Linked DNA regions of Homo sapiens: region 1 is linked to region 2. Evidence: fine-mapped expression QTL. A gene starts in region 2. The other region holds a variant in brackets. All regions are shown on one strand. Distances are from middle to middle.

Region 1 (5,257 bases), 92 kb before region 2:
CCTGACCAACATGGAGAAACCCCATCTCTACTAAAAATACAACATTAGCCGTGCATGGTGGTGCATGCCTGTAATCCCAGCTACTCGGGAGGCTGAGGCAGGAGAATCGCTTGAATCCAGGAGGCGGAGGTTGTGGTGAGCTGAGATCACACCATTGCACTCCAGCTGGGCAAAAAGAGCGAAACTCCATCTCAAAATAATAATAATAATAATAATAATAATAATAATAAGGCTGGGTGTGGGGGCTCACACTTGTAGTCCCAGCACTTTTGGAGGCTGAGGTGGGCAGATCACTTGAGCCCAGGAGTTCAAGACCAGCTTGGGCAACATAGCAAGACCCTGCCTCTACAAAAAATACAAAAATTAGTCAGGCGTGCTGGTGCCCACCTGTAGTCCCAGCTACTGAGAAAGCTGAGGCAGGAGGATTGCTTGAGCCGGGAGGTCAAAGTGGCAGTGAGCCATGATTGCACCATTGCACTCCAGCCTGGGTGACAGAGGGAGACCCTGTCTAAAAAAAAAAAAAAACAGTAATAACAACACTTGTCTCTGAGAAGGGTAATACTTGGTCTCAAAGACTAGTAAGACCACATCTTACTTCCCTTCAGCCATGCCTGACCCAGGACTAGGTACACAGTTAGTTCAATGAAGCTTGGCAGGAAAAAAGACAAGCAGCCAGCCATGCTCAATAAATGCTAACGATTATTAGTGTTCATCATTATTAGTATTCTAGACACTCCAGTAATCATTGCACAATATCAGAAGCAACATCATCTTCAGGACCTGGGCTCCCAGGGGACTCTGTCACGTTTCCCTTCCTCTTCCAAAGACAACTTCTCTTTTAAAAGAGACATGAGCCACCAGCCTTGGCAGAACCACAGACCAGAGAAGGAGCAGACATCAGGGAACTTGAGGGCCACAGTGTTCCGAGGGACAGAAGCCACTGGCCACAGCAGTAGGCAGTCTGGTAGTCTGGTTCCCAGGGAGCAGAGTGAGGGTCAGGTAGGGGGAGGGAGCTGTGACTCGTTCTCCTTCCGCAGCCGGTGACAACGTGGCAACAGGCCAGCAAGTCGGCTCGAGCAGGTCCACCCTCTGACCATTTCCACTGCTAGCAGGCGAAGGCAGCCATCAAACTAGGGGCATCTTCTCCTCTTCCTCAGTTTTCTCAACTCCTAAACGAGGAATTTCCAGGTGTTCTCAGGACCAAGGCAGAGGGAAGGCTCCAGAAAGCCCCTGGAGAAGGCAGATTTCCGGTCCACTCCAGCAGCTGAAGCCCCACCTACAGGACAATCCTAGCTTCCTGCTGCTTTCTGCCTTCCCAACCCTCTTCCTCACCCACTGCACACACCTGCCCAGCACATGCTCTAGAGAACAAAAAAGGCAGTTCTCTAAAGTTTTATGTGGGCACAGTGGCTCACGCCTGTAATCCCAACTACTTAGAAGTCTGAGACAAGGAGGATCGATCACCTGGGCCCAAGAGTTTGAGTCCAGCCTGGGCAACATAGCAAGACCCCCATGTCTAAAAAACAAAACAAAATAAAAGTTTAATTTTCTATGGTGGGAGGGGCAGGGGATGAGAAGGAGAAAGGGATATGCAGCTGGCACACATTTTCTTTTCATAGAAAGATATTTCTCCTAGAAGCTGGGTAAAGCAGGGGAATGAAAATCAGAAGGTCTTAGGAAGAGGTCTCTGTTGCTGGCGAGCAGTTCCTTGAATCCTGGGGGCACTTCCCTGTGTTTGGCAGGGCAGGATGGCTCCTCTGTGAGGTCAGGGCCCCACTGACAGCCTGGGTTCTCAGCCTCTCGACAGGCGACCTACTGATACTATACGATCTTCTTGCTTGTCTCAAGTCCCTTTCAACTCAAAAACTCAAGCTGCATCATTTGAACACCACACTGCAACTTACAAAGGGCTTTCATGTAAAGTACCCCTCTTAATCCTTTCAACAAACCTGGAACATATATGTCATCACCATTTTATAGCCACAGAAACCAAGGCTTAGAGATATTGAGTAACATCTCTGAGATCACGTGGCTAGACAAGGCGGCCCCGGGTCTTGGCTGCATGTTACCTCCTGCCACCACATCACAGATGCCTGCAGCCCTAATTTGCTGACCTGGCCCTTCCAGCCTGGGTTAGAGAGATGCCATGTGCTCACCCAGTGCATATCGAGAAGCTAGTACTCATGAGTCAGAATTCAGTTCCCTGTACCCCACACTACCTTGGGTGGTCCCAAGGACAGGGGCTGTGAGTCTAGGGTCTTCCTCACTGCTATTTCCCAGCACCTGGCACAGGCTCAGTCAGTGGGTTACCTAGCAGATATTGTTATGTGAATGAATGCCTGAATGGTTGACAAATTAACAAGCAGGTGACCCTCTGAATAGCCAGAGGTGTACACCCTGGCCCCTAGACATCTGATTTTGGCCACACAACATCCGATTTTTCCAAACTTGGTCTCTGGATGCCTAAGGGATGCTGAGTCTTACCTAGGGCAATTGTGATCGGAAAAGGAACCAGTGGATGTCAAGGCAGCTTCATATTCACCATCAAATACTCAACAGGAATCAAGACCCTCAGGGAGGCAGGCTCCCTGGCTCTCATTAATGGCCATAAGAAGTGGCATCTGTTTCCCTGCTTGCTTGCAGGCAGGGCTCACACCATCCCCAGATGCAGTAACGTGCATCAGGACTCTGAAGGCCACGCAGAACACTTGATGGGAACAGCAGGGGTGGGGCAGGGGCCACACCACCAGCCTTGGGAAGGGGACAGCCAGATACAAATACCACCAAACAAGGGTGCACGGATGGATGCAACTGGGGACAAGGAACCCAGAAACAACAGCACCCTGTGGGCCAGGCTCTGCTGACCCAGATAATAAACCCAGGGGCAGCAGCCACACCTCCCGGCCGGGGATGGACATCCTAGCTGCAAACACACACTACAGGGTGATCCCAGGGACTGGGATTTCTGGTGAGGCCAGGGATGGGAGGAATCTGCAAGACATGGAAATGAGCTTTGGCCAATTTCCTCTGGACACTCCGCCTCACAGCTAACTTTGGCATTCGTCTCTTAGTTTCGCTCTCAAGACTGGATGTTCTTTAAAGGAAACAACCACATCTTACTGGTCTCTGAGAGCCTTCCCTTCACCCATGGGACTAGGTACTGAGTTAGTTCAATAAAGCTCGGCAGGAGAAAAGACAAAGAGCAAGCCAAGAGAATGAAAATGGCAGAGGGGGAAGGAACAGCCCAAGGGCGCAGAGAGCAAATGAGCTTCGCAGAGGAGGAGGAAATGAGCAGGGATGGGGGAAACTAAAGCCAGGGCTTGCAGGTGACAAGACAAGTCCGCTGAATGTGGGATCCTGGGG[GT/T]GAGTGGAAGGTGAGCCCCAGCCTGGCTGCTTGTCAGGTGGTGAGATGGCTCAGAGAGGAGGCTGGACCACACGACCAGGAAGACCCTGCTTTCCCCGTGTGGGCAGGAGAGTCCTAGAAAGGGAAGTCAGGGAGAACAAACTTGGGGTGGGGGCACCGGACTGCCCTGAAATAACAAATTCCAAACAGCAGGTTCTCTGCTGAAGAGGCAGGGAGTCTAGAACCCCAAGTAGGCAATTAGCAAGGACACAAACATAGCAATTACAGCAAGGAAGAGAAGGTGAATCTGCCTCACAGCAGGGCACAGGCACAGCCAGGGGAAGGGCCCAAGCCTTCAGGTCCACTGGAAGCTTTCCTCCTTGCTGAGGGTGAAAAGTGGAGAAAATAGCAGAGCCCAGCCCCAGGTCCTGTCTGTGGTGCAGGCAGCCTCCAAAGCCCCAGCGTCTGATTTTCTGCAAGCTCCCTAGGTCGGGATGCTGCTTGGACAAAAGGAATTGATCTGAGACAGCACCAAAATCAGGCCTGACTTAGGGAGCAACGGCGGAGACTATGGAGCCCAGGGGCACCCGGAAGGAGGGGAGAAAGTGAGGGTTGGCAGGGCAGGGAGGCCATCATTTGCAGAGGAGCAAAACTCTCTGCCACACAGCCCCTGCCTCTCAGCGCCGCCCTGACCTGGTATGCCCTGGCCTTCCAGGAAACCTGGGGGTCTGCCTTGGACAGAGAGGGTAGAGACCTGGCTGCTGGTCCCGCCCGGGCACTACCACCTAGGTGGGTCCGTCAATGAAGTGACTAGCGACCCATCCCCAACTCCATACAGGAACATGTAATCTTTTTGAGATCTTTCAATAGGTCTTTCATTGTTCTTTCTGCCAAAGAAGAGCTTCCTGTTTCGGTACTTCGCAAAAGGCTCAAGACATGTGTGTTCCCACATCCCTTCCCATACAGCCGCCTTCCCAAAGGGCTCCATCCCCTCTCGAGAAGCCCAGGCAAGCCCAACTCTGGAGTTCTTAGCTCCAGCCCGTATGGCAGCCAAAGCCCTGGCCTCCCAGTTGTCCTCTGCGAGGTCCCAAAGCGCCTTTTGACGGGGAAGGAGAGAGACGAAAGAAACTTTCTGCAGAGGCCAAGGATGGCTGAGACTCCAAACCCTCCTGAAATTTCACTTCCTCCCAAATAACCCCACTCCAAGCCCCTGGTTTCTTCCAGATGTTCACTAACAGCGCGAGAGTCATGGAGGGGCCGAGACGGAGCCCCTTTTTTCAACTCAGGGAAAGAAAGGACCGAGGGCGCAGGAAGGCCCAGGGGCTTCCCGCCTCCCCCTGGCGGGGCGCAGCCGGTCCGGTACCAAAGGTCCGGCCAGCCCCGCCCGCCCGCGGCCCGGCACCCGCTGAACAGGAAATTCCACCTGTGCGCCCAGAGCTCGGCCACCGACGGACACGCCAGGGGAGCCGGCCGAGCCCAGCGCCGCGCTGCAGGGTCGGGCGGGCAGGAGCTTCCCAGCGCCCCGGGTCCCCGGCCCGCGCTCACCTCGTGCCGGGAGTTGTACTTGAGTCCCGCGCCGAAGTCCTTCGGGCCCCCTCCGCCCTTGCGGGCCCGATCGCTCCCCATGGTCCCCGAGGCCGCTCGCGGGTCTCACAGGCGTCGTCCCTGCCGGCGGCCGGCTCCCATGGCCCGCAGGGCGCGGGGCGCGGGGCGCAGGCGGCGGGATTCCGGGCAGGCCCAGCGCGCCCGACCGGCGGCGGTGCCCTCGCCCTGGCGCGCTCTCTCTCCCTCTTCCTCTTTCTCCGGCTGCAGCTCCGCTCTCACACTCCGGCCCGGCCCACGCAGGTAGTTTCAGGGTGTGGCCTCGGCCCGCCCAGCCCGCCGCGCTCGCCTGCGCACCTGCCCGGCTCACCT
Region 2 (5,478 bases):
CAGACTCAATAACCACATGTGGCTTGTGGCTACACCCTGGGAAAGCCTGGCTTTAGATGGTAAAACAAATTCCCTCTACAAAAGGAGGAACTAATTGATAAAACTGAAGTTTATCGTATTTATCAAAAGATTTTTAAAACATAGTTATGATAAAAATAACGGGCCGGGCGCTGTGGCTCACGCCTGTAATCCCAGCACTTTGGGAGGCCGAGGCAGGTGGATCACCTGAGATCAGGTGTTCCAGACCAGCCTGGCCAACATGGTGAAACCCTGTCTCTACTAAAAATACAAAAATTAGCTGGGCGTGGTGGCAGGCGCCTGCAATCCCAGCTACTTGGGAGTCTGAGGCAGGAGAATCGCTTGAACTCGGAAGGCGGAAGTTGCAGTGAGCCCAGAGATCCCACCATTGCACTCCAGCCTGGGACAGAGCGAGACTCCGTATCAAAAAAAAAAAAAAAAAAAAGACGATATTCCTATCAGAAGCACACCAAGGTTTCTCTCCAAGGTACAATTACACATCTCCCATACCACCTGTCAGAAACACCAACACAAAGCCTTCTCTACTCTGCCTCAGTTGACATCCTTTAATTTGGGTTTGAGTTTCCAGAAAACTGGCAATCAAATGGCCTTCTTTCTTTCAAATGTGACAGAACAAACTCAAGTTCCGGTTCTCAGGAGCCTAGTCATCCACTGCACAGTATGCGGGGTTTCAGCACAATACTGTCTCAGTCCCAAATGGGAGCATGCACACAGGAGAACTTGTCTCGGATTTAAGAGAGGAAGTGACCCTGAGTCCAGAGGTGAGCTTTTTCTTTTTAAACAGGTGTAAGAGATTAATTCAGTCAACACCAAGCAACACTAAAGATTTGCCAATCAATAATTCTGTGCCAAGCAACTTGATCAGGGATTTGGCCAGAATCCCTTTCGCTAATCTCAATCAGGGCCTTCCCAAAGACATCCTGATTTAGGCCACTCTCATCTAAATTAAGCTTCGACAGTCCCTTGCCTGACAGCAAATAAACAAAATCAAATTATATTCATATGAATAAAATTCTGATAGCTTGACAAAAGGCCCCTTGAAAGATCATTTAGTAAGTGTGAGCAAAAATACAGCTCCAAAGAACAGGAGTTACCATAAAACCATTTTTCAGAAATGTTTAATTCCTACTTTCTTCAACCATACTTTTCAACTGAACAACGCTGTGGCTAACAATCAAATTTAACACACAACAATGAATTCTCATATTATTTTTTCCCGCTACACAAGTATTAACGAATTCTTTAAAACTGCTGAGTCTTCTACTGTGAATTCACTAATGCCTCAAATTAGTCATAGCAGTGGGAAGTGGAGTGCGAGTGTGAACGATGGTTTCTGACACCCGACCCACTAGTGAAGTCCCATCTTCCATACGAAAGCCTTTATTTTTTCTTCCCATCTCACTCACCTAGCTGTTTTCATGCGACATATCAGGGATCACAGATACAACTCTGACCATTGTGTGGACACACTGAAACAATCGCAATCCAAAATCCTCTGTAGATAAACGTTAACTATTTCTCTTTAAAGCTGAACTCCTTTCTTACCCTCACAGTCACAAAGCTTTAAACTGGATGAATACAAAGGTGTTAAGCCGTTCCATCAGAGAGGCTTTTTATTAGATTTATTTTTACCCGTGGAAATACTTGAACATTCTGTAGAAGTAAATATATTCTAAACCTGAGGTCTTTAAAAGAAAGCTCTCAATTAATGCCCAATCAAATCCAGTCTTCAGGTCTCTCTGAAATTAGCTAAGTATGCAGAAACCAGTTGTAATTTTTAAAAGAGCGAAGAGGGAGAAGAAATAAACGACACCAGAACTACACATTCCAGACCAGCAGTTCAAGCACCACTTCGAGAAGGGAAGTAAAGATCAAGCTCGCCGTCTCCCTCGGCCACAGCAGGGCTCCTCCAAGGCTGCCCGCTCCGGCCCGCACCGCGGACCCCGCCGCCCCCGCCCCCTCCCGCGGCCTCCCCAACCCCCGGCCCTGCCGCTTCGCCTTTCTCGCAGCGGGGATGCTCAGGGTGCGACCTCGAAGCACAACCACTGATGGAATTCTGACACCCGAAGAGGACGATTTTTCCAACAGTTTACACGCCTTCGCGGGCACCTTCCCTACTCACTGAAACCCTCACGAAAGCGGTCAACGCACCCAGAGCGGGTTTCCTCGGTCTACGGACGCAGGCAAACAGCGCCACTTAAAAAATGCGCGTCCGCGACCCGGCCCCAGGCGGCAGAGGGAGCAGCGGGCGGCCTGGCGCGGGAGCTCCCCCGGGGCTCGCAGCATCCCTGCCGCGCGCGAAGGCCGGGGCCGCGTCCACCTGGCAACAAAGGCGAAGCCCGCCGCTCGCAGGTGGGAGGCCCGGAGCCGAGGCCCCGGTGCCGCGCGAGGGAGCGTACGGGGTCCGCGCGGGGCCGCCCCTGGAGAAAGCCCAGCCGCGGACTCCGGCGGGAGAGGAGCGCCCTGGCATTGTCCCGGGGGAGGGCGGGGCGGGCGCCCGGGGGCACTGGGTCCCCGGAGGAGGTGGCGGCGCCGCGGGCGGGTTGGGGGCTGGGTCGGCCGAGGCGGACGGCCGCCCCCAGCAGCCCCGACGCCTTTCATTTGGCCTCTGCGGCGGCTGAGGCAGCCCGACCTCCAGCGCTAAGCACTGCGCCAAGCAGGGACGGGCGGGGGAGGGCGCGCCAGACCCGCCGCAGAGCCGGACCCCCGGCGCCGCACCGCCGGCCCGCCCTGCCGCGGACCCCGCTGCCCGCCCGCAGTCCGCGCTCCTCCGGCGGGCGAAGGAGACGACTCTCCGGCGTTCGCCCGGTCCCCACCTCGATGTAGCCGGCCAGCGCCAAGGCAGGCGCCGTGAGCCCCACCAGCAGCAGAAGCAGGAGCCTGCCCGTGGCTGCGGCGGCCGCGGTCCCGGTGGCCGCCATCCCTCGCCGGGTCGCTCTAGCGCGCGGCTCTCAAGCTCACACACTCGGACTCCTCGCTTAGCACACCGCGACCCAGAAGCATCTAAAGCCAGTTCGCCGCCGCCCCGGGGGTTTTACACCAACCGGAACTGACTTCATATTACCACGCCCTCCTTCTGCGGCTCCCAATGCCGGCCCGCAGAACCCCTCAAGACCCCGCCCCCTTGCGGTCCAGACCCAATCAGGAGATGGAAGAGCCTGCTCCTCCCGCCCGGTCCAACCGCGCGCCCCCCGCCCGGCCCCGCCCCCGGCCGCGGATGGCCCCGCCCCCGCTCCGGACCCTGTGGCCGCCAGGCGCGGGGGCGTGCGCGCGGCGGGTCTGGGGCCGCAACCCTGTGGGCGCGGGGCTGGCTCTGGCCTCCGCCCCCCGGCGCGGTTATCTGTCCCTGCTGCGCTGGTCCGTCAGCCTTCAGCCTCCCGATACGGGCACGCCCCGCTCCCCTGCCCCTGCTGGGCATTCTTCAGACTCCTTTGGGTACCGCCCTCTTTTTGATTCTGGAAATGGTTTTATTAAAAACAGGATGAATTAGGAGTCCGGGACGGTCTGCCAAGGGCCGTCCCCCGAGGCAGGGGGAGGACCGCAGGAGGCAGCCATCGTCCTCCCCCGAGCCCTACTCAGGGCGCGCCTCTCCCGCCCTGCTCCGCCCAGGCCTCTCCGCCGGGTCCTCGCCTCTGAGTCCGGCCGCGCTCCGCACCCTTGGCCTCCGGTCTTTAGGCCTCTTGCCGACCCTTCCTTCCCAGCAGTTGCCCAGGCAGGGATAGAGACCAGGGGTGCAAGAACCACGCCGGCCTCACAGCCCAGGCCCCCTTCCTCGTGTGTTTTAGGAAGAGATCACGCCGCTTCTTCGGTTGAGACGCACTAGCGGGAGACCTGCTACTCTGCCTTCCTGCTCCGCGGCATTGCCACTTCAGTAGAGAAAAACGTCCTGCTGCCCCATTTAGCAATTGGCACAGCCTCGCCACCGCCAGGGCTCCGCTGGCCTTGTTTCCTTTCAGTCGCCTGTGAGTTAGGTACTGCCTTCTGAGAGACCTGGACTAGTCCCTTCAGGTTCAACTAAATGCATAACACAACCCTACCCCCAGGACGCTGACAATAGAAAGGAAGAGACTGTCCGCGGAGTAGACGAGTGCGCCTGTAAGAACTCGGGATTTTCCAGCCTTATTCTGCACCACTCTCCCCTACATGCCCAGTTCCCTGTGGGTAAACTGGCTCTGCCCGATTCCTCCAAGACGACACCTTTCCATTTCACAGCCCTTCCTAACACTCTTCTGCGCCTGCAATGTCCTCTCCCCAACATCTGCCTGTTGGAAGCGTTTTCACTGTTCCTCGGCTCAGTCGGCTGAAATATCGCTTCTGATTGCTCAGAGGGATGTTTCCCACTGTGGCACTCGCTCCCTAGTTATTCCATACCTCTCTCAGGTCACTGACAAGACTTGGGTCTGTCATGCCGCAGTGCCCCTCACAGTGCAGTCCTCGATAAATGTTTGCCCAGTGTTATTGAACCCAGTTATCTTGGGTGCTGATACTAGTTCTGGAACTGGCATGAATTTGGCTCTTGCTATGGACCGAATTTTGTCCCCACCCCTAATGTGTGTGCCGAAGCGCTGAACCCCAGTGTGATGGTTATTTGTAAATGGGGCCTTTGGGAGGTAATCGGATTTGGATGAGGTCATGGAGGTAGCAGGTCATGATGGGATGAGTGCCTTTATTAGGAGAGACACCAAAGAGCTTGCTTTTCTCTCACACTCTCTGTCCCCTACCCCCAACCTCAGCCCTCACCTCCCTCCTCCATGTGCGAACACAGCAAGAAGGCCGCCATCTGCAAACCAGGAAGAGGTCCATCACTGAGGGGCCAAAGTGGCACCTTGAGCTTGGACTTCCCAGGCTTCAAGAACTGTGAAAAATAAATCCCTGTTGTTGAAGCCCCCCAGCCTATGTTATTTTGTTGCAGCAGCCGGAGCTGACTGACACAGCCGCATGATCACCGGCAAGTTCCTCCATCGCTTGGGACTCTCTTTTCTTCTCTGTCAAATGTGAATATTAAAACCTGTCTCACTGCACCGCTTTGTGTGATTGAACTTAAAATGAATGTACAATAGTGAAAAGCATGAAGTGACTTAAATGTAAGGGGTAGGAGGGTAAAGCGATGTATTACTAAGTGCAGGTTCATCTGCAAGTATGTGGGAAAAGTATCAAGTGACTACCTAAATCCTCATTGAGTTGTTGAGCCTAGGGTAGGACATGTAGCCCCTCTGGGGCCTGTTACCTCACCTACAAAATCAGGGCCTTGAACTCAGGGAAAAGCAAGTGAGATATCTGAGTTCAGTGGCGTGGATATTCATGCTTTGGAGACTGTATCTTCAAGACTGAGCTTTAATATCATGGGATAGTACAAGGAAATACAGGAACATAATTTAGAGGGCCTTCAGTCTAAACTTAGGTCTTGAAAGAAGTTTATTTGCATTTTCAAGTTATGGA

What was found. PIP is the estimated chance that this variant, and not a neighbour inherited with it, causes the effect. A credible set is the group of variants that fine-mapping cannot tell apart.
Region 1: its variant is the best candidate, but not a certain one, in a credible set for the expression of APLP2 in whole blood (INTERVAL, PIP 0.71).

The regions. Positions count from the first base shown.
Region 1 is chr11:130,159,692-130,164,948 of GRCh38, reverse strand. ST14 (ST14 transmembrane serine protease matriptase) reads right to left here and starts at 5,167. Exons shown (of 19, transcript NM_021978.4): 1 at 4,889-5,167. The coding sequence starts at 4,969. RefSeq lists an enhancer at 3,432-3,931 and silencers at 5,019-5,088, 5,169-5,257. The variant GT/T (reference allele first, on the strand shown) is at 3,364.
Region 2 is chr11:130,067,460-130,072,937 of GRCh38, reverse strand. APLP2 (amyloid beta precursor like protein 2) reads right to left here and starts at 3,044. Exons shown (of 17, transcript NM_001142276.2): 1 at 2,856-3,044. The coding sequence starts at 2,960. LOC107984432 (a long non-coding RNA gene) reads left to right here and starts at 3,289. Exons shown (of 2, transcript XR_001748444.2): 1 at 3,289-3,474; 2 at 3,825-5,060. RefSeq lists silencers at 2,156-2,615, 2,686-2,815, 3,206-3,435 and enhancers at 3,352-3,852, 3,853-4,353.